Linked DNA regions of Homo sapiens: all the other regions are linked to region 4. The links come from fine-mapping of genetic effects on gene expression. A gene starts in region 4. Each other region holds a variant in brackets. All regions are shown on one strand. Distances are from middle to middle.

What was found. PIP is the estimated chance that this variant, and not a neighbour inherited with it, causes the effect.
Region 1: its variant is fine-mapped to the expression of ARSA in whole blood (INTERVAL, PIP 0.97).
Region 2: its variant is fine-mapped to the expression of ARSA in monocytes (TOPMed, PIP above 0.99).
Region 3: its variant is fine-mapped to the expression of ARSA in macrophages (Alasoo 2018, PIP 0.95).
Region 5: its variant is fine-mapped to the expression of ARSA in whole blood (INTERVAL, PIP above 0.99).

The regions. Positions count from the first base shown.
Region 1 is chr22:50,662,027-50,666,140 of GRCh38, reverse strand. No RefSeq gene overlaps it. Among named protein-coding and RNA genes, the nearest start is that of SHANK3, 8.7 kb to the left of the region's middle. The variant A/G (reference allele first, on the strand shown) is at 2,148.
Region 2 is chr22:50,710,077-50,714,190 of GRCh38, reverse strand. It overlaps SHANK3 (SH3 and multiple ankyrin repeat domains 3), which reads right to left. Exons shown (of 25, transcript NM_001372044.2): 21 at 2,553-2,576. Among named protein-coding and RNA genes, the nearest start is that of ACR, 26 kb to the left of the region's middle. The variant T/C (reference allele first, on the strand shown) is at 1,848.
Region 3 is chr22:50,596,496-50,600,609 of GRCh38, reverse strand. No RefSeq gene overlaps it. Among named protein-coding and RNA genes, the nearest start is that of MAPK8IP2, 2.2 kb to the left of the region's middle. RefSeq lists a silencer at 228-407. The variant G/AG (reference allele first, on the strand shown) is at 2,059.
Region 4 is chr22:50,625,731-50,629,823 of GRCh38, reverse strand. ARSA (arylsulfatase A) reads left to right here and starts at 1,672. Exons shown (of 8, transcript NM_000487.6): 1 at 1,672-2,268; 2 at 2,418-2,658; 3 at 2,772-2,990; 4 at 3,064-3,233; 5 at 3,546-3,670; 6 at 3,761-3,888. The coding sequence starts at 2,045. RefSeq lists a silencer at 1,588-1,777 and an enhancer at 2,712-3,494.
Region 5 is chr22:50,605,297-50,609,410 of GRCh38, reverse strand. MAPK8IP2 (mitogen-activated protein kinase 8 interacting protein 2) reads right to left here. Exons shown (of 12, transcript NM_012324.6): 6 at 3,968-4,043; 7 at 3,677-3,849; 8 at 3,477-3,586; 9 at 2,646-2,753; 10 at 2,420-2,490. Among named protein-coding and RNA genes, the nearest start is that of MAPK8IP2, 6.6 kb to the right of the region's middle. RefSeq lists an enhancer at 1-184. The variant T/C (reference allele first, on the strand shown) is at 1,743.

The sequences.
Region 1 (4,114 bases), 36 kb before region 4:
AAATCTGATAGCACTTCTGCAGTTTGGTTTCAAGGAACAATACATTTCCCAGAGAAGTTCAAGAGCTGGACTTGGAGCAAATGCCCAGCTCAGCCACCAAATACCCAGGTGGCCTAGGAAAGCTTCCTAGCCTTCCTATGTCTCCGTGTGTGCTCAGCTAAGCTGGGGACTATAGTACAAACTGTTTCATTTCCTCATTCATTCTGGCCAGATGGCAGGCCTGGTTGAGATGCAAGGTGTCTGCCTTCAGAGGCTCACAGGTCAGTTCTCAGCCTCCTGGGCCATTGTGTGGACTAGATGAGGTACGTGTGTGTAAAATGCTTAGCACATGCCTAGTACCTGGTAAACACTCTAAATTTTATCATCATCAAAGCTAGTTCAGATTTTGGAGTGTATTCTGATGAGTGTGTTCTCCATATCTAGCAGCAAAACAGCAGCGTAAAGGGATGGCTGATCTTTGTTGTATATTCTTAGAAAGAGTGTTAAATTTAAAATACTGTTTTAACATTGAAATGTGGAATTAGCCGGCCAAGGTGGTTCACACCTGTAATCCCAGCACTTTGGGAAGCCAAGGTGAGCAGATCACTTGAGCTCAGAAGTTTAAGAACAACCTGAGCAACAAAGTGAGGCCCCGTCTCTACAAAATTACGGACATTTGCCAGACGTGGTGGCGCGTGCCTGTGGTCCCGGCTACTTGGGAGGCTGAGGCAGGAGGATCGCCTGAGCCTGGGTGGTCAAGGCTGCAGTGAGCCGAGATCACACCACTGCACTCCAGCCTGGGAGACAGAGCGAGACCCTGTCTCAAAGGAAAAAAAAACGTGAAATTAAAAGTGAGAAATATTTGTCTAGTTAATTTCACATTTAGGGTTCCGAGTATCTTTTCATTCAAGACGATGTGTTTTGCCTGTGTTTACCTCTCCACTCTCTCAAAGGCCACTGACAATTTAAGATCTATGTACCTATTTTTATTGTAGTGAAAAGCACATAACATGCAGTTCACCATCATAACCGTGTTTAAGGGTACAGCACAGGAGAGACAAAAAGAATGAATTCCCTGTTCTACTGATTTCCCCTTATCAGTGCTGCGCTTGACTAGTCTTATAAAATTAAAGATTTAAAAATTTTATATATATATATATATATTTTTTTTTTTTTTGATACAGAGTTTCATTCTGTCGCCCAGGCTGGAGTGCAATGGCACAATCTCGGCTCACTGCCACCTCTGCCTCCCAGGTTCAAGCAATTATCATACTTCAGCCTCCCTAGTAGCTGGGACTATAGGTATGCACCACCATGCCTGGCTAATTTTTGTAGTTTTAGTAGAGATGGGGTTTCACCATATTGGCCAGGCTGGTCTCGAACTCCTGGCCTCAAGTGATCCACCCACCTCGGCCTCCCAAATTGCTGGGATTACAGGCATGAGTCACCACACCTGGCCCTAGAACTATGTATATTTTTAAATAATAAATCCATCCTCATGTTAGAACCATCAAATGGGTTATGACTGGAATGACGCAGATGGGATCAGAGATGAAGAAGCCAACAAAAGCCAGAGAGTCGGCCATACCACAAGAAGGACGTCCGGGCTGCTGGGGAATGGCTTATTGGCCATTCACATAGCTTCTTTCGTGAAGTGTCTGTTCTAGTCTATTGCCATTTTTAAAAACTGAGTGGTTTGAGTTATTAAAATTTAGGAGCTCCTTATATAATCTGGATACAAGTTTTTTGTTGTTGTTGTTGTTTTGAGACGGAGTCTCCCCCTGTCGCCCGGGCTGGAGTGCAGTGGCGCGACCTCAGGTCACTGCAAGCTCCACCTCACGAGTTCCCGCCATTCTCCTGCCTCAGCCTCCCGAGTAGTTGGGACTACAGTGGCCCACCACCACACCCAGATAATTTTTTTGTATTTTTAGTAGAGATGGGGTTTCGCCGTGTTAGCCAGGATGGTCGTGATCTCCTGACCTCGTGATCCGCCCGCCTCGGCCTCCCAAAGTGCTGGGATTACAGGCGTGAGCCACCGCGCCTGGCCCTGGATACAAGTTTTTATAAGATATATGTATTGCAAAAGTTCTCTAATTTCTTGGCTTGCCGTTTCATTTTTGTAATAGCCTCTTTCAAAGAACAAAAGTCTTGCATTATTATAGAATTCA[A/G]TTTATCTTTTTTGTTTAATCGTTCTCATATTCTTTGGGTTCACTCTAAAAAATCTTTGCCTACCACAAGATCACAAAAATATTTTCCTGTGTTTTATAGTTTTATTTTATTTCTTTTTTTTAAGAGATGGGGGGCCAGGCGTGGTGGCTCATACCTGTAATTCCTGGGAGGCCAAGGCGCATGGATCACCTGCGGTCAGGAGTTGGAGACCAGCCTGGCTAACATGGCAAAATCCCGTCTCCACTAAAAATACAAAAATTAGGTGGGCACGTTGGCGCACGCCTGCGTTACAGCAGGAGGATTACTTGAACCCAGGAGGCAGAGGTTGCAGTGAGCCGAGATCACGCCACTGCGCTCCAGCCTGGGCTACAGAGCGAGAATTCGTCTCAAAAAAAAAGAGATGGGGGTCTCACCATGTTGCCCAGGCTGTGTAGTTTTAGCATTTACATTTAGGCCTGTCATTAATTTCAAGTTAATTTTTGTTTTTGGTATCAAGAAAAGGTAGCTGTTCATATTTTTTTGGGGGGAGCATGTCCAGTTGTTTCAGAACCATTTTTAAGATTTTTAAATTTAGTTTTTATTGTGGTAAAATATACATAACAAAATTTACCATTTTAACAATTTTTAAGTATACAATTTTGTGGCATTAAGTGAATTCGCCACCATCTCCAGGACATTTTCATCACCCCGTATTAAACTATACTCACTGAACAATAAGTCCTCCAGTCTCCTTTCCACCCAGCTCTTAGAACCACAGTTCTGCTTTCTGTCTCCATGTATTTGACTATTCTAGGGACCTCTCAGCACCATTTTTAAAAAGACTTCCTTTTCCACTGAATTGCCTTTGCACTTTTGTTGAAAATCAGTTGTCCACATATGTGTGGGTCTATTTCTGGACTCTGTCTCTATTCTTTTCCTTTGATCTATATTTATAACTTTCTTCAATTCCATACTGTTTAATTTCTGTAACTTTATAGTAAGTCTTGAAAGCAGATAAGTCCTGTAACTTTGTTCTTTTTTAATTTGTTGGTTATTCTAGGTCATTTTTATTTCTATATAAATTTTAGGATCAACTTGTCAATTTCTAACTCCCCAAGAAAGCCTGCTGGGAATTTGACTGGTATTGCACTGAATTTGTAAATATATTGAGAGAATAGACATCTTAATAATATTGAGTTTTCTATTATATGAACATAGTATATTTCCTCATGTATTTATTTGTTTATTTATTTTGTAGGGGCAGGGTCTTGCTTTATTGCCAAGGCTGGTCTCAAACTCCTGGCTTCAAGCAATCCTCCTGCCTCAGCCTCCCACATATTTTGGTCCTCTTTAATTTATCTCAGCAATGTTTAGTAGCTTTCAGTGTAGCATTCTTACACATTTTTGCTAAATCCATTCCTAAAAATTTTGTGTTATTTCATGTATTACAAATAAAAATTTTAATATAATTTTAATTTCATTTTCTAATTTTTTTTTTTGAGATGGAGTTTCACTCTTGTTGCCCAGGCTAGAGTACAATGGCATGATCTTGGCTCACTGCAACCTCTGCCCCCCGGGTTCAAGTGATTCTTCTGCCTCAGCCTCTCGAGTAGCTGGGATTACAGGCATCCGCCACCACACCGGTTAATTTTTTGTATTTTTAGTAGAGACAGGGTTTCACCATGTTGGCCAGGCTGGTCGTGAACTCTTGACAGGTGATCCACCTGCCTCGGCCTCCCAAAATGCTGGGATTACAGGCATGAGCCACCGTGCCCAGCCTCATTTTCTAATTGTTGATAGTATAGAAAATCACCTCTTTTTTTTTTTTTTTTTTTTTTTTTTGAGACAGGGTCTCACTCTGTTTCCCAGGATGGAGTGCAGTGGCATGATCTTGGCTCACTGCAGCCTTAACTTCCCAGGCTCAAGCTATCCTCCCACCTCAGTCTCCTGAGTAGCTAGGACTACAGGCACACACCACCATGCCCAG
Region 2 (4,114 bases), 84 kb before region 4:
ACCCTAGAGGGACCACTGTCTGGCCACACTTGTCTTGGCACCTTTCACTCTTGTCTTGGCCCCTTGTTGGAGAATTTCAACGGTCAGACTGGACACCTCCTACTCCTTCCAACTCCAATCTGCAGCTGTTCACAGCACCTGCTGATTCTACCTCTGCAATCTGCTTAGCATTGCTGGAAGGAAGGAAGGAACTCCCCAAGCTTAGCATTGCTGGAAGGAAGGAACTCCCCAAGACTGTCCTGTACCCAACCCAGACCAGACCCACCCTGTACACTGACTCTGTCCTGACATAACCTCTTTGTGACCTCTGTGTCCTCATTGATAAAACAGGCATAAAAACAGTGCTCGCTCACGTGTCTCTAGTGAGAATTAGCACAGAAGAAAGGCTTACAACTGTGCTGGCACTGGACACAATTCAGTACAATTCATGTCTGTGTGCCCCATCTCCCCAGACAGCTTCCGGGTCTGCAGAACAGAGCAAATACTGTTCTCTGTGTTCCATCAGCGCCCAGCCTGTGTCCTGAACGATACAAGAGTTTACCAGCAAAACAGGCTCCAACTGCAGATATCTGGGCCTGTGCACAGCTCCCAGTGCCACCAGGTGACAGGGGCCCAGGTACAGACCAGGGGCTGCTGGTTTGAGGGGACTTCTCATTTGCTTTTGTCATGAAGTGAATGATTTCTTTTTGGGAGTTGAAGTCACCATTGCCACCATCTGTTAAGTTCTTGGTGATTTCTAGAGTATGCGGGACTTTATGCAAACCACTCCTCTCATCCCACAACTACACGAGGATTTTATCATCACCCTTATCCAACCCAGGAGCAAACTGAAGCGAAATTGCCATAAATCTCTGACTAGGAAGTAAGAGATGAGACTTAAGCACCATACTCCCCGGAAACTGCAGAAGTAAAGATATGAATGGAGAGAAAACTCCGTGAGGCACACACGGCTCAGCATCATGGGAGACACGTTGCCGCCTGAGCCACGGGCTAGGAGAGGCTGTCTCTCTAGGTCTGGAAGACCCATCCCAGAGACCCACAGCGGGACGCACATAACGTTTAGTGAGCAGCTGTTTCTGGTCATCCGGCGATGGTGCTGGAGCCGGGTGAGAAGTGTTTTCAAAAGGGAAAGGATTCATCAAGAATTCTGCAAATTACAAACTGATGAGGTTGACATAAATCTCCCCCCAATATTAGAGGATATATTCTTAAATAAATAATTTTAGATAATTAAGGGAAACAAAGCCCATCAGGAACCAAGTGGACCCGCTCACTCCCAGGGCCCTCTGGGTGCACAGCAGGACACAGCTGGGTTTGCAGCTGTTTGATCAACAGGGCCCCAGCCTGCGGGATGATCAACCAGCCATCACTTCTTCCACAACTGGAGCAGCACCTGGGCTGCAACACAGCACCCTGGGAGCCCCACTAACGAGCTAGAGGGCAGAGCCAGAAGATTCCAGAAATAGCTTGTATGTCTGCCCCAAAGGCATGCAGAAAAGGTCACTGGAGGAGACCTTGTCACCTGTTTTTAATACCTGAGAAGACACTGGGGAAGCCCTTCACCTGGGCTGGGGCAAGAGGCAGCAAGGGGACCTCAAGAGGGCTGGGCCAAGGGCCTGGCAGATGTGTCCTCACCCAGGGAAAGCCCAGTGGGTCGAGAGAGAGGGAGGGATGGGCATCAGGTACACGGACGTGGAGCAAATATACAGGCCTGGGTGGAGAAAGCCACCTCAAGCCTCTGTCTGGGCCCTGATTCCCATCCACCCGAGAGGCAGAGGAGGCTGCCGGAAGCCGGGTCCCAGGACTTCACCAGACAGTGGACCTCAGTACCCAGGCCCAGGTGACTG[T/C]CCCCACCTGAATGCGCCCTCCCCTGCAACCAGGCTGAACATAAAGGACATACAGGGAGCAGCCCCAAAGGGTAGAGGGAGGCCTGAACGGGGGTTCAGGAGGGTAGTCAACAGCCTGGGGTCTTTGGCCAGGGGAGCTCCAAGCTCCTTCCCCAGTGCTGTGGGACTCAGACCCCTGCTCTGAAGGGACCATCAGCTCTGGGCTTGGCCCTACAACCAACCAGCACGGGAGTAGGTCCCACAACCCAAGCACAGGCCCCGAGAGGACCAGCAGAAAGAAGCAACGTGCACGCCAACACGGCCCAGTCTCCCTGCTCCCTAGAGCTCCCCCTCTGGGACCCTCGGAGCCCTTTCCCTCCTGCTGTCCGGGCCATGGTGCATGCAGTGGCCTCCACGGGGCTCTCCCAGCTCCTCCCCACGGGCTGCCTCCATCAGGCTATCTGCACAGCTCACAGGCCCCAGGCTCACCTGAGCCCCCAAGGCCATCACAGTCTCAGAGGGTCACACCCCTGGGAACTCCCCATCCATCCTTGCAGGCCCTTCTCTCATGCCCCTACCAGATGCCCAGGGAGAAGGCCAACAGGAGGGTGCAGCCCAGGCTTCCAGGCCACCCTGACTTGCGCTGGAACCTCCTCACACACCAGCACTCCCCCAGACAGGGGTCAGGCAAAGCCAAGGCCCTGGGGACACAGGCAGATGACTCACCCCCTTTTCTTCTCCGAATGGAGGCTTGGAATCAAGAAACAGAGTAAAGGGAGTAAGAGGCAGGCTCGGCACCCGGGCCCCATTATCCACACTCATTTCCCCACCCCATCCCTCTCACCACCACCTCCCCCAAAAACCATGACCTCCCAAATCTGCCCCCAGCCTACACCTCTTTATCAGACCGTGAATAGCAAATCTGCCCAACTCTGGAGTCAGTTGGTACATGCCTTGAAAGCCAAGGAGGAAACAACCACAAGCAGGGACTTGTGTGTGTGTGCCACATGCATGCAGGTGCACACAGCGCATGTCCACTCACCCACGCACAGACATGTGTGCTGCATGCACGCAGGGGCACACAGCGCGTATCCGCTCACCCACGCACACACGTGTGCCACACGCATGCAGGCGCACACTGCATATCCGCTCACCCACGCACAGACGTGTGCCACACGCATGCAGGCGCACACAGCGCGTATCCGCTCACCCACGCACAGACGTGTGCTGCATGCACGCAGGTGCATACAGCGCGTATCCGCTCACCCACGCACACACGTGTGCCACACGCATGCAGGTGCACACAGCGCGTCTGCTCACCCACGCACAGACATGTGTGCCACACGCATGCAGGCGCACACAGTGCGTATCCGCTCACCCATGCACACACGTGTGCCACACGCATGCAGGTGCACACAGCACGTGTCCACTCACCCACGCACAGACATGTGTGCCGCATGCACGCAGGTGCAGACAGCGCGTGTCCGCTCACCAACGCACAGACACGCACACACACACAGATATGCACAACTCCATCATGCTTGGCTCAGTCAAACGTTTGTTCAGAAAAAAGGCAAAACCCCATAGAAAACAAGTTCAGGTGTCGCTGAAAATTAAGGTGGTCACCTCTGTGTTCTGTTCAAAGTCGGTCTTAAAAGGCAGGGCAAGTGTGTTTGGCACAGAAACCTTTTCCAGGACAAGGCCACTCACATAGATGCTGGGTGTGGCACCTACCCTGATGTTCTCATCACAAAAGAAAAAGGGGCCCAGAAATTACAGGGAAGTCCAGAGTTCTCCCGGGAACGTGAATACACAGGAAGGGCTTGGACCCGCCACAGGGCCTTCCCTGGCCTGGGTCTCCACTGACCTGTGGCCCCAGCACATTCCTGGTACAAACCGAGCAGACATGCATGTGGCGACCATGAGGAGCCCCCAGTGCTGAGGGGAGGAGGGGTGTTCTGCCCTCTTCTCTCTCTCACCACCTATCTCAGGAGGGTCCCCACCCAGCCCCTTCCTCTCACTCCCAGCTCTGCAACCCTCCATTTTCCAGGCACCAGCCTTTGCTCACCCCATTCCCCCACAGGATACCCCTTCCCTCCCCTTCCTCCAACAGGGCCATGCCTCTCCCACATCCTCCGAGCAGCAAACAGCCACCTGGACAGGAGCCTCCGACTTGCACCTGCTTTCTCTGACACCTCACTTTCTTTTCTTTTTAGGTGTCCAGGCACCTTCTCGATAGACTATGGATCCTAAAGGGCTCTAATAGCTCTTGACAGTGTGAGGCAGTT
Region 3 (4,114 bases), 29 kb after region 4:
GGCTTCACTGCCGGGCGCTGGTTGGGGAAGGGCCGGGCGTGCGATGAGGATTTTTCCCGGGGAGGGGCGGGAGGGAAGGGGCGGGCGGGTGGGCGTCGGGCCCCGCCCTGGAGGACCCGCGCGGGGCGGGAGGCCGAGGAGGCAGCGCCGGGGTCCGCGGGCCTCGGGTTCGCCGTGGGCTGTTTCCTCTGGGCGAGAGGCCGGGGCGGCCCCGGGAGCTGCGCCGCCGCGCCCAGGATCCCCCCAGGAACCCTAACCCGGGTGCGGCCCGGAGCGGGGTGGCGGGCGAGGCGGGAGGCGCGGGAGGAGCTGTCCGCCGTCGGGTGCTGATCGGAGCTGTCCCCACGGGGTGCTGACCGGGGCTGCACGGGGACGTCTGCACGAGGGTCGCCGAGCAGGGCTGGATTCAGAATCGAGCACAAGGTACTCAGAGGATGCTGGCTGGGGCTAAAAGTGGACTTTGAGCACTCAGTAGAGACTGCACAGCCGGACGGACGTACCGACGGGCACTGGGAGAAGTTAGCACCCACGGAGGCGACATGCGTCCCACTGGAAACACTTTTTCTTGGGCACCGTGTTGCTGGGCCCTGTGTAGGGAACTGACCCGCTCTGGCTTGGGATGGAGCCCTGTGGGGAGGGCCATGGTTGAAGCTGAGCTCGAGACGGTGGCTGTGGGAGGAGGCGGGAGATCAGGGTTGAGGGCGCAGAACTAGGGAGAGACTGCAGGACACTTTTTTTCTTTCTAAAATAGAGACCGGTGGCTGGGCGCGGTGGCTCACGCCTGCAATCCCACCACTTTGAGAGGCCAAGGCGGGTGGATCACGACGTCAAGAGATCGAGACCAGAGACCATCCTGGCCAACATGGTGAAACCCCGTCTTTACTAAAAATACAAAAAAATTAGCCGGGCGTGGTGGCGGGCGCCTGTAGTCCCGGCGACTTGGGAGGCTGAGCCAGGAGAATCATTTGAACCCGGGAAGCGGAGGTTGCAGTGAGACGAGATTGCGCCACTGCACTCCAGCCTGGCAAGAGCAAGACTCCGTCTCAAAAAAAAAAAAAGAGAGAGAGAGAGACCGGCTCTCTCTGTATTGCCCAGGTTGGTCTCAAACTCCTGGGCTCAGCTATCCTCTGGCCTCAGCCTCCCAAAGTGCTGGGATTACAGGTGTGAACCACAGCACCTGGCTAAATATTGGCTAAAGAAGGAGGCTGGCATTTCAACAAAAGCGCAATCCCTTTTCCCCCTTGATGAAAGTTATGTGCCCTAAGATTTCTTTATGTCTTAGTTCTGCGGAAAATTCTTTTTTTTTTTTTTTTTTTTTTTTTTTTTTTTTTTTTTGAGACAGAACTTGCTCTGTTGCCCAGGCTGGAGTGTAGTGGCACGATCTCAGCTCACTGTAACCTCCACCTCCCGGGTTCAACCGATTCTCGTGCCTCAGCCTCCCGAGTAGCTGGGATTACAGGCAATCACCACCATGTCCGGCTAATTTTTGTGTTTTTAGTAGAGATGGGTTTTTGCCATGTTGGCCAGGCTGGTCCCAAACTCCTGACCTCAGGTGATCTGCCCTCCTTGGCCTCCCAAAGTGCTGGGATTACAGGCGTGAGCCACCGCCCCTGGCCTGGAAAATTATTCCTTAGGAAAGGACAAGGCACTTGAGTGACAAACACCAGAAACGACATGGCAGAAGGAGCTCATGCAAGTCGGGAAGGGGGGTATCACCATTCCAGCTCAGAGAGAGGCCTGTGGCCAGGGCCTGATTGAACCTGCACTCTTTGGTGTCCCATCACAATTTATATTTTATGCCAATTACAGTATTTTTCTAAGAATGGCATTTACTTGGCTGGGCACAGTGACTTACACCTGTAATCCCAGTACTTTGGGAGGCCAAGGTGGGTGCGTCACTTGAGCTCAAGAGTTTGAAACCAGCCTGGAAACATGTCTCTACCAAAAATAAAAAAAATTGGCCGAGCCCAGGAGGCAAAGGTTGCAGTGAGCTGAGATCACACCACTGCATCCAACCTGGGGGGCAGAGTGAGATCCCATCTCAAAAAAAAAAAAAAA[G/AG]CCATTTACTAGTTTATGCTTGCCTTCTTGACTTGGGTTGGCTGGAGAGAAGAGAGGCTGTCATCTCTCTGTGAAGCCCTAGGCTCCAAGCATGGTGCCTGGCAAACAGTAGGTGCTTAGCAGACATGTGAATGAATGAATGAGAGAGCTTATGGTCTCTAACCCAGTCTGGGGCATCAGGTCTTTGCCATAACAGTCTTTTCCCTTTTAGAAGCACTAAGAACATTCCCCATTTCTGAGGGAGTCTGGGCCTATTAACCACTCCCTGCCTTTCCCAAAAAATCCAGATCCCTTCCCAGATTTCACAGAGAGTTTGACCTCAACTTTCCAGATTGGCTTTTGATCCTGAGTCTTTTCACCAAACTGGTTCATCTGGACATCCACATAAATGACCCATCCAATACCCTGGTCAGTCAGTTCCTTGATTTCTGATCTGTCAACAGTCTTTAATACTCAAGTGTAGTGACCTCTCCCACAAAGTGCCTCCAGGATCTACCTTCATCTGGAATTGCAGCAAGCTTAAAATCTTTTTTTTTTTTTTTTTTTTTGAGACAGGGTCTCACTCTGTCACCCAGGCTGGAGTGCAGTGGTGTGTCCCTAGCTCACTGTAGCCTCAAACTCCTGGGCTCAAGGAATCCCCCTGCCTCAGCCTTCTGAGTAGCTAGGACCACAGGTGCACACTACCATACCTGGCATTTTGTTTGTTTTTGTAAAAACAGGGTCTCACTATGTTACCCAGGTTGGTCTTAAACTCCTGGGCCCAAGCCCAGGTGATGGCCTCCCAGAGTGCTGAGATGACAGGCATGAGCCACAGCATCCAATCTGAAGTCTTATAGTCTCAAATTTCATCTTAGATCCTAATCCCCAAAACCTTCCTCAAGCCTCTCCCCTTCCTTCCCTCCCTCTTAAAAGATGGTCACTCCCAGGTCCCATGAGCGTAAAGACCATGAGATGGGGGATACCGCCCGCAATTTTATCTGTGGACCTCCCATCTTGCCCCCAGAGCACAGATGGAAGATCGTCGGCCTTAAAGTCTGAAATACGGGAGCCACTCTTCATTTTGCACCAACTTGTTGAACGTGGGCAAATTACTCAGTTCCTCGAGATCTTGGTTTCTTCCTCTGAGCAATGGTGCTGCGAGGACCACATGTCGTGGTGTAAGCCCCAGACACAGGCCCTGTTGTTTGTTGGTGATCATTTAAGGCTCACCTTTCCCCTGCTCCTCACACCGGGGACATGTCCTCCCAGTCCCCCAGGGCTGCTCTGTGCAGCTCAGGGATACATTAGTGAAAAGGCAGCAACTCTTTCCTGAGGGGGTTTATGCTCCTTACATCATGCACATTTTATCAAATTTGCACCTTCCTTGTGTGCTCCTCAGAGCATCATTGTATGGATGAACAAATGGGGGTCCACAGGGAGCTGAACATCCCTCCTTGAAGTTCCTCCTCCAGCCTCTGGGCCACAGGCACTGGGTTTTCCTTCCTGACCACCACCCGTTGTCAGCGTCCTTCCAGACTCCTTCTCCTTCAATGACAAATCAAGATGTTGTGACGCGACCATTTTAACGCTTTCTTCCCTCTATGGTGCACGAATGGCATAGACATTACAAAGCACAAAATTGATTGGACTTAGAAGGGAGAGTTGGAATCGCAACAGCTTCCACAGTCCTGACCACAGCAATTCTAAAAAGTCAGAGAACATTTTCTGACAACTTTCTGAGAGATTAGAAAACAAATGCAAACTATCAGTATTTATTGTACTCATATTTCACAGAAATCACAAACACAAAATAAATATGCCAATGGTTAAAACTGCAAACAGACACATTTAATAAAGATGAAAATTAAGAGTTCTACCTTCACCATGGTGAAGTCCTAACGCCACCATTTCCCGAATCTTCATTTTTATGCAGCCAGGTCTCTGATCACTACCTCCTACTTTTCTTGGTCTCTTGCTGCATTACTACAATACCCACTTTTTTTTTTTTTTGAGACAGGGTCTTGCTCTGTCACCCAGGCAGGAATGTAGTGGTGCAATCTCAGCTCACTGTAACCTC
Region 4 (4,093 bases):
CTTGTCGGCTCCTGGGTTCCCCTGACGGAGGCTCCCAGGAGAGTGACTTTAGTTATCCTACCGACTGCACCAAAACTGTAGGAGCCTAGAGAAAAACTTTTCTGCATTCTGAGTTCACAGAAAATCAACTGACAAAAGCCAGGTTAGTAAGAAAAAAGGCATACAGATTTATTCATGCACACAGGGAGAACCAGAGTGATGACCCCAACCTCCCAATGGGGTTCGGAAGCTTATATACCATCTTGAGGTTACAGAAAGAACATGGGCTCAAAGTATGGCCACAGTTTATGGTGGAAAATCAGGTGACCAGTGGCAAGACCGGTTACAGGAGGGAGAGCAGAGGAGGCCTGGCTAGCAAAGGTGGCCTTGTTCTACAGATGAAACCTCACAGGTAGCAGCCCTGAGAGAGAACAGATGGTGAATGTTCCCTTCAGGCCTTTAAAGGCGTCAGACTGTTACTCTTCCCAGATCAGGCAAGGAGGGCCTCAGAGGAGGCCTGGCCGCATCAGTGTAGATTCTCTCCACAGATGCAAATCTCCCCCACAAAAGACAGCTTTTCAGCTATTCTTCTATTTCCAGTCCTTCTGAGTAACTGTCTTGAACCGTGTCAAGGAAATATATTTGGAGGTGACATATTGTGTTTTCCTTCAAGATCAAAAAGGTTAAGTCCAAGGCTGCCCAACGAGGGAGCGAGGACCCAATCACGTTGTCCTCAGATGAGTTTTTCCCCAGCAGCGTAACCCTGCAACAGGCCAGACTGGACCCCAGACACACATTCCACACCACACCACGCCTCCACCACCACACGCACACAACAGACACACCCTAAACACCAGACACACACACACACCTCAACCACCGCAAACACACATACGCCACACCTCTAACACCACACACACCCAACACCACACACATACGTGCCTCAAACACTACACACACCTCAACCACCATACACCTCAACCACACACACCCCTCAAACACCAAACACACCCCTCAACCACACACACACACCCCTCAAACACCACACACCCACCTCAAACACCACACACACATATCCCTCAAACACTACAAAAACACACACACACACCTCAAACACCACACATGCACACACACCTGAAACACCACACACCTGCCTCAAACACTCCACACACACCACACACAGACACGTACACAGCCCCCCGCACCCAGCCACAGCTTACACGCACACAGACACGCGTACGCAGGAGAAAGGGTGTCAAAGCTTTTGCTAGTCGTGAAGGAAGAGCCCGCAGTCCATGGGGCTGCACGGTTTTCCCTGCCATTTGCTCATTCACCGGGTGCCCATAACGCTCCGCGCTCAGGTCTCTTACAGGAGGGCCCGAGTCTCCCAGTACCGGAGGTCTGGGGGCGCACGAGCCGCTCCTCCTCTGGAGAAGCTCCGGACCGAGAGGACACCGGACACTGCGCAGCGCCGAGCCCCGCGCGCAGCCCGGGACGCCTCAGCCAGGGCCGACCGCGCAGAGGAAGCTCCCAGAGCCCGTTTCAAGACCGCAGCCAACAGCCTCAGGCGCACACGGCGGCCTCGGAGCGAGCACGCGCAGCAACGCCCCTCGCCCCGGCCCGCCCCCGGCCCCGCCCCCGGCCCCGCCCCCGGCCCCGCCCCGCAAGGGTCACAGGTCACGGGGCGGGGCCGAGGCGGAAGCGCCCGCAGCCCGGTACCGGCTCCTCCTGGGCTCCCTCTAGCGCCTTCCCCCCGGCCCGACTCCGCTGGTCAGCGCCAAGTGACTTACGCCCCCGACCCTGAGCCCGGACCGCTAGGCGAGGAGGATCAGATCTCCGCTCGAGAATCTGAAGGTGCCCTGGTCCTGGAGGAGTTCCGTCCCAGCCCGCGGTCTCCCGGTACTGTCGGGCCCCGGCCCTCTGGAGCTTCAGGAGGCGGCCGTCAGGGTCGGGGAGTATTTGGGTCCGGGGTCTCAGGGAAGGGCGGCGCCTGGGTCTGCGGTATCGGAAAGAGCCTGCTGGAGCCAAGTAGCCCTCCCTCTCTTGGGACAGACCCCTCGGTCCCATGTCCATGGGGGCACCGCGGTCCCTCCTCCTGGCCCTGGCTGCTGGCCTGGCCGTTGCCCGTCCGCCCAACATCGTGCTGATCTTTGCCGACGACCTCGGCTATGGGGACCTGGGCTGCTATGGGCACCCCAGCTCTACCACTCCCAACCTGGACCAGCTGGCGGCGGGAGGGCTGCGGTTCACAGACTTCTACGTGCCTGTGTCTCTGTGCACACCCTCTAGGTAAAGAGGGGGCCGCGCCTCTTCCCCGCCCCGACCCTCCATCCCTTTCCTCCCAATGGATTGCAGGGGGGCGGGAAAAACGTCTGTCTCTCTCTCTAGGGAAGGCCACATTTCTGTCTGTCTCAGGGACTCTGTGACTTGTCCCGCAGGGCCGCCCTCCTGACCGGCCGGCTCCCGGTTCGGATGGGCATGTACCCTGGCGTCCTGGTGCCCAGCTCCCGGGGGGGCCTGCCCCTGGAGGAGGTGACCGTGGCCGAAGTCCTGGCTGCCCGAGGCTACCTCACAGGAATGGCCGGCAAGTGGCACCTTGGGGTGGGGCCTGAGGGGGCCTTCCTGCCCCCCCATCAGGGCTTCCATCGATTTCTAGGCATCCCGTACTCCCACGACCAGGTAGGAACCACCCGGGCCCTCAGCCACCCTCCCACCTCCCAAAGTCCCCCAGCCCTTGATGCTCCCGCAGCCCCACCTGCCAGCCCAGCCCTCACGGCAGCTGCCCGCCTCAGGGCCCCTGCCAGAACCTGACCTGCTTCCCGCCGGCCACTCCTTGCGACGGTGGCTGTGACCAGGGCCTGGTCCCCATCCCACTGTTGGCCAACCTGTCCGTGGAGGCGCAGCCCCCCTGGCTGCCCGGACTAGAGGCCCGCTACATGGCTTTCGCCCATGACCTCATGGCCGACGCCCAGCGCCAGGATCGCCCCTTCTTCCTGTACTATGCCTCTCACGTAAGTGATCTTGGCCCAACCCCCTGGCTGCCCGTGACCCCTACCCAGTGCTAACTCCAGTCTTTGCCCCCAGCACACCCACTACCCTCAGTTCAGTGGGCAGAGCTTTGCAGAGCGTTCAGGCCGCGGGCCATTTGGGGACTCCCTGATGGAGCTGGATGCAGCTGTGGGGACCCTGATGACAGCCATAGGGGACCTGGGGCTGCTTGAAGAGACGCTGGTCATCTTCACTGCAGACAATGGGTATGCCAGCAGGGCAGCTGGGTGCTCCGGCCCTGTCACGGGCCAGGGCCCTGGAGGCCTTGCAGTTCAGCTGCTTGCCAAGAACATAGTGGGTGAGGGGGTGCCAGGAGATGCTGGCCACGTTGCAGGGGCCCAAGGTGTAGTCAGGAGACACAGTGCACAGAGAGCTGGTCTTGGTAGGCCTGGGAGGTGCCGGGCTCATGCTGGGCACCTCCGGGCAAGCTTTGTGACTTAGAGGTGTGGGGCCACTGGTCACCCTCGGTGGCTCAGAGGCTGTGGCTCCATGGCTCATGAGCGCCTCCTGTGTCCCAGACCTGAGACCATGCGTATGTCCCGAGGCGGCTGCTCCGGTCTCTTGCGGTGTGGAAAGGGAACGACCTACGAGGGCGGTGTCCGAGAGCCTGCCTTGGCCTTCTGGCCAGGTCATATCGCTCCCGGTCAGTCCGCAGGCCCTCTCCTTGGAACCCTGGCCCCACCACCCCAACCTTGATGGCGAACTGAGTGACTGACCAGCCTCCTGCCCCCAGGCGTGACCCACGAGCTGGCCAGCTCCCTGGACCTGCTGCCTACCCTGGCAGCCCTGGCTGGGGCCCCACTGCCCAATGTCACCTTGGATGGCTTTGACCTCAGCCCCCTGCTGCTGGGCACAGGCAAGGTAGGGCCGGTGACCCCTGATCCCAGATCCTTGGCCCCTGTCCTGGCCTTCCCCTGGGGTGAGTGTGGGCAGTGCCTGAGAGTCTGTGCCTCAGTGCCTCCTGCACTGAGTGGCATCCAAGTGGCGCCACCTCTCAGGTTCCTGGGTGGGCAAGAAGCGGTGCACGTCCAGGGCCTCCCACCAGGGCTGGCAGCCCCAGGTATGT
Region 5 (4,114 bases), 20 kb after region 4:
CCTGCATTACTCAGGCACCATCCTCTGCCCTTTCCATTAACTCACAGAAGCCTCACAACAGCCCTCTGAGGTAGGGCCCTGATGGAGAGCTAGGCACAGAGGTTCAGGAGCTTGCCCAGGACACACAGGCAGGATGGGCAGCCCTGGGAGAAAAGGCTACAGTCTGTGATCCCAACACCAGACATCCTAATGCCAGATCCCAACACAGCACACCCCACGCTCTCCTGACCTACCACCACCGCCATGAAGAAACGAGTTCATCGTTCACCTCACACGGTTTCGTCCGTGCCTCCTCGTGGCAAGGGACCGGGGACGGGGGGTCTGGGGTGACAAATATTAGGAAGGTCTGGGCCAGGGCAGCAGCTCCTCCACCTCCTCCCACACCCCTGCCACATCTTGACTCCAAACCCCAAACTCGACTGACCACCTTCCTCTCACGAAATTCTAGCTGGGGCCCTGTCCAGCCTGAGACCTGAGCTTCACCCAGTTTCCTTCTGATGAGAAATTTGGGTCATTCTTCCTCTCCTGGCAGCGTCCGCTGTCCCAGTGACCCCAGAGCTGTCCCCACTGTCTGGTCTGCGCCCCGTCCGCTGTCCCAGTGACCCCAGAGCTGGCCCCACCGTCTGGTCTGCGCCCCGTCCGCTGTCCCGGTGACCCCAGAGCTGGCCCCACTGTCTGGTCTGCGCCCGTGCCCACTGTCCCACCTCTCCACCCCAGAGCTGTCCCTGCTGTCTGGTCTGCGCCCCTGCCCGCTGTCCCACCTCTCCACCCCAGAGCTGTCCCTGCTGTCTGGTCTGCGCCCCGTTCGCTGTCCCGGTGACCCCAGAGCTGGCCCCACTGTCTGGTCTGCGCCCCTGCCCACTGTCCCACCTCTCCACCCCAGAGCTGGCCCCGCTGTCTGGTCTGCGCCCCTGCCCGCTGTCCCACCTCTCCACCCCAGAGCTGTCCCTGCTGTCTGGTCTGCGCCCCGTTCGCTGTCCTGGTGACCCCAGAGCTGGCCCCACTGTCTGGTCTGCGCCCCTGCCCACTGTCCCACCTTTCCACCCCAGAGCTGGCCCCGCTGTCTGGTCTGCGCCCCTGCCCGCTGTCCCACCTCTCCACCCCAGAGCTGGCCCCGCAGTCTGGTCTGCATCGCTGCCCGCTGTCCCACCTCTCCACCCCACTGAGCAGCGTTTCCGCATGGATCCCATCAGACCATCTCTGCACTCGGCGGGGACAACACAAAAGGGCTCCGCACCTTCCAGCAGGCAGCACCCTCACTCTCGACCACAGGGAGAGTCCACAAGGCCCCCAAGATGCACTGACGTCTGTCCCACGCCTCAGTCCTGGCAGCACCGTGCCCTGCTGTGTCTTGCCTGTCTGTGAGCCTGCTTCCTCCAACTCCCCGCAAGTCCTTTCCAGCCTCTGGCTGGCTCTGCCTCTCTGGTTCCTCCCAGATCTCCTTCCTCTAGGGTGCTGGGACACAGAGGGCAGGGGCCTGTGCCTGGAGGGAAGCTGGCAGCCCCCCTTGGCCTGCTGCTCCTATGCCAGCACCTCCTCCTCCCCTCCTCCCCTCACCCTGCCTGGCCATTCCCCTCTCGTCTCAGTGATCTACCTGCTCTGACCTGGTATCTTCCCTCCAGGTCTCCCTCCTAAACTCCAGACCCATGGGACCAACGGCCACTTCAGTCTCACCGTTTGTGATTGATCCCGCATCCCCTCTCGGTGTGTGGGCTGCAGTACAACCATCCCCCAGGGAGACG[T/C]CACCCTGGTCTCTTCCAGGTCACCCTCTACAGCCGGTCAACCTAGGTCCTGCCTGTACTGCCTCTTCAGTGCCTCTTGCATCTGCACACTTGGTCTCAGGACATAGCACCTGTATAACCTCAGCAGCCCCCAGGTCCCCTGTGTCACCTCCTTCCATTAGGAGCCTTCTATGGCCTCATTACCAGCAAGATTAAGTACAGCTCCTTGGCATAATCAAAAGGGTCCAGGTCTTCCCCGGCATTTCTAGCTGCTCCCCTTACACGCGGGCCCCAGAGCCTATATAGCCCCCGACCAGTGCATCCCACACCCTTGGCTCAGCTAGACCCCACCAGGAAGATCCACTTCCCCACCGCTGTCACCTGCTGTGTTTCCAGGCTGGCCATCCTGAGCCCCAGGCCCACTCAGGCGTCCTCTGCACCCACACAGGCTTCTCACATCCTTCGCCCGTGTGCCTCTCTCCACCCAGACTGGATGCAAGCCTGTCTGACCCACGCCTCCTGAGTCCAGCTCAGAGCAGGCGCCACTGCAGGCTCAGCTCACAGAGCTAAGTGGGTGCAGGTGGAGCTCTCAGGGCTGGGCACGGGCAGCCCTCAGGGTCTGTGGGGACTCAGGGGGCGGTTGGACTCTCAGGGTTTGTGGGGGCGGTTGGGGGACTCGGGGACGGTCAGACTCTCACCAGCTGTTGCGGGGATGGCAGCCGCAGAAGGAGATGTTCTTCATCTGGAAGAAATGGCTGCAGCGCTGGAACTAGAGCAGAGGTGGGCAGAAGTCCCTGTGTCAAAGGAGGCCTGGCGCCACCCCTGCCTCCCACCTACTGGACACCCCTGCCAGCCTGGCCCCGTCGGACTCCGTGGCCTAACCCTATCCCCCAGTCCCCGGTCCCCAGTCCCCCACACTCCCACCTCGGGCCCTCCTCCGCTCAGACTCAGCTTGACCCCCCGAAGAGAGATCTCGAGGTCACAGGAGGCAGGAGGGCGCAGGTGGACGGTCAGTTTCCGGGCAGTGGCAATCTACAGAAGAAGTTGGGGGAGAAGAGGGTCTTGAGGAGCCCACAAGGGCCTTTCTTTCCCCTTGGTGGGACTACGCCTCTGCTCCTTTTAGCTTATGTTTGAGGACACACATGCTGAGGACCCTGAGATGCAATTCTGGAAGACATAAGGGGTGTGGCCTTGGCCACTCCTCAGGCTCAGGAGGAGCAATCGCCTCTCTGCAGTCAGCTTGCTTCATCTTCCTTCTGCTCCTCCAGGCAGGCTGCTGCGCTTGGCTCAGGAGCCAGGAACAGAGACCTCACCCGCCCTGGGCTGCTCTGCCCTGCTCCCTACTGCCCCCCAGCCTCAGCCTCAGTACTGGTGCCTGGGCAGGTGCTCACTAAACGTCCACTGAGTGAGTGGATGAGTAGAGGGCTCCCAGGGAAGGGGCTGTGAGGGCTGGTCTTGATTCCAGATGGGAAGAGGAAGGGCTGATGGCAGTCGGGGCCACCTGGAAGATCTGTGGCCCAGAGACCCAGAGGTGATGAGGGACAGCTGCTGTGCTCTGCCCTAGACTCACCTGCTCAGGCCTCTGAACCAGGGCCTGGGGTACCCACCCCGAGCTCCCCCTGCAGCATCCCCCAGACCCTCCCTGGAGGAAATCAGACCTCAGACCTTGGAGCCTCAAGCCCTGTGCCAGCCTGCAGTGCTGGTGTGGCCGCCAAGCGGACCCTCAGCCTGCACTTGCCCGGCCTCCACACTGACCTTCTGCATGGCTGCACACAGGATGCCGTTGCCCTGGTGGCAGGGCACCTCCACGGAGCCCAGGAACTGCACGTCAAAGCGCTCCACCCAGCAGGGGCTCCGCTTACTCCCTGGGGAGCGGGGCACAGAGGGCCCAGGTCAGGCAGGGGCACAGGGGAGGATCTGGGGTGAAAAGCCTCCCCTCGGGGTTGGGACCTCACCCAGCAGGTCCTTGGCAGGGCCGGGCACCGCATGGGCGTAGAAGGCAGGAAACACACCGCGCTCCCCCGTGCGCATGTTGAAGCCACGGAACCAGAAGTCGTCCTCCTCGGCCTCCACCAACACAGGGTCATCCACATCCAGCTCCAGCTCGTCTGGATGCCGCGGGATGAACCTGCCGTTGGGGGAGAGGTCACTGGGGAGGGGGGCGGGATTGACGGTCGTGTCCACTGGCGTTCCGTGATGGCAGGGACTGAGGCTGGGGCCACCGCCAGCAAGGAGGGAGGCCGTACCTGAACACAGCCCGGTGAGTCTGCTCTCGCTCCTCGCCGTTGACCAGACAGGAGAAAAGGCCAAAGGACTCGGTGCCTGGGAGACCCGGCAGGACAGAGGCGGGGGAGACAGGGAGACAGAGTCAGAGTAGTGCTTAGAGGCCTGGC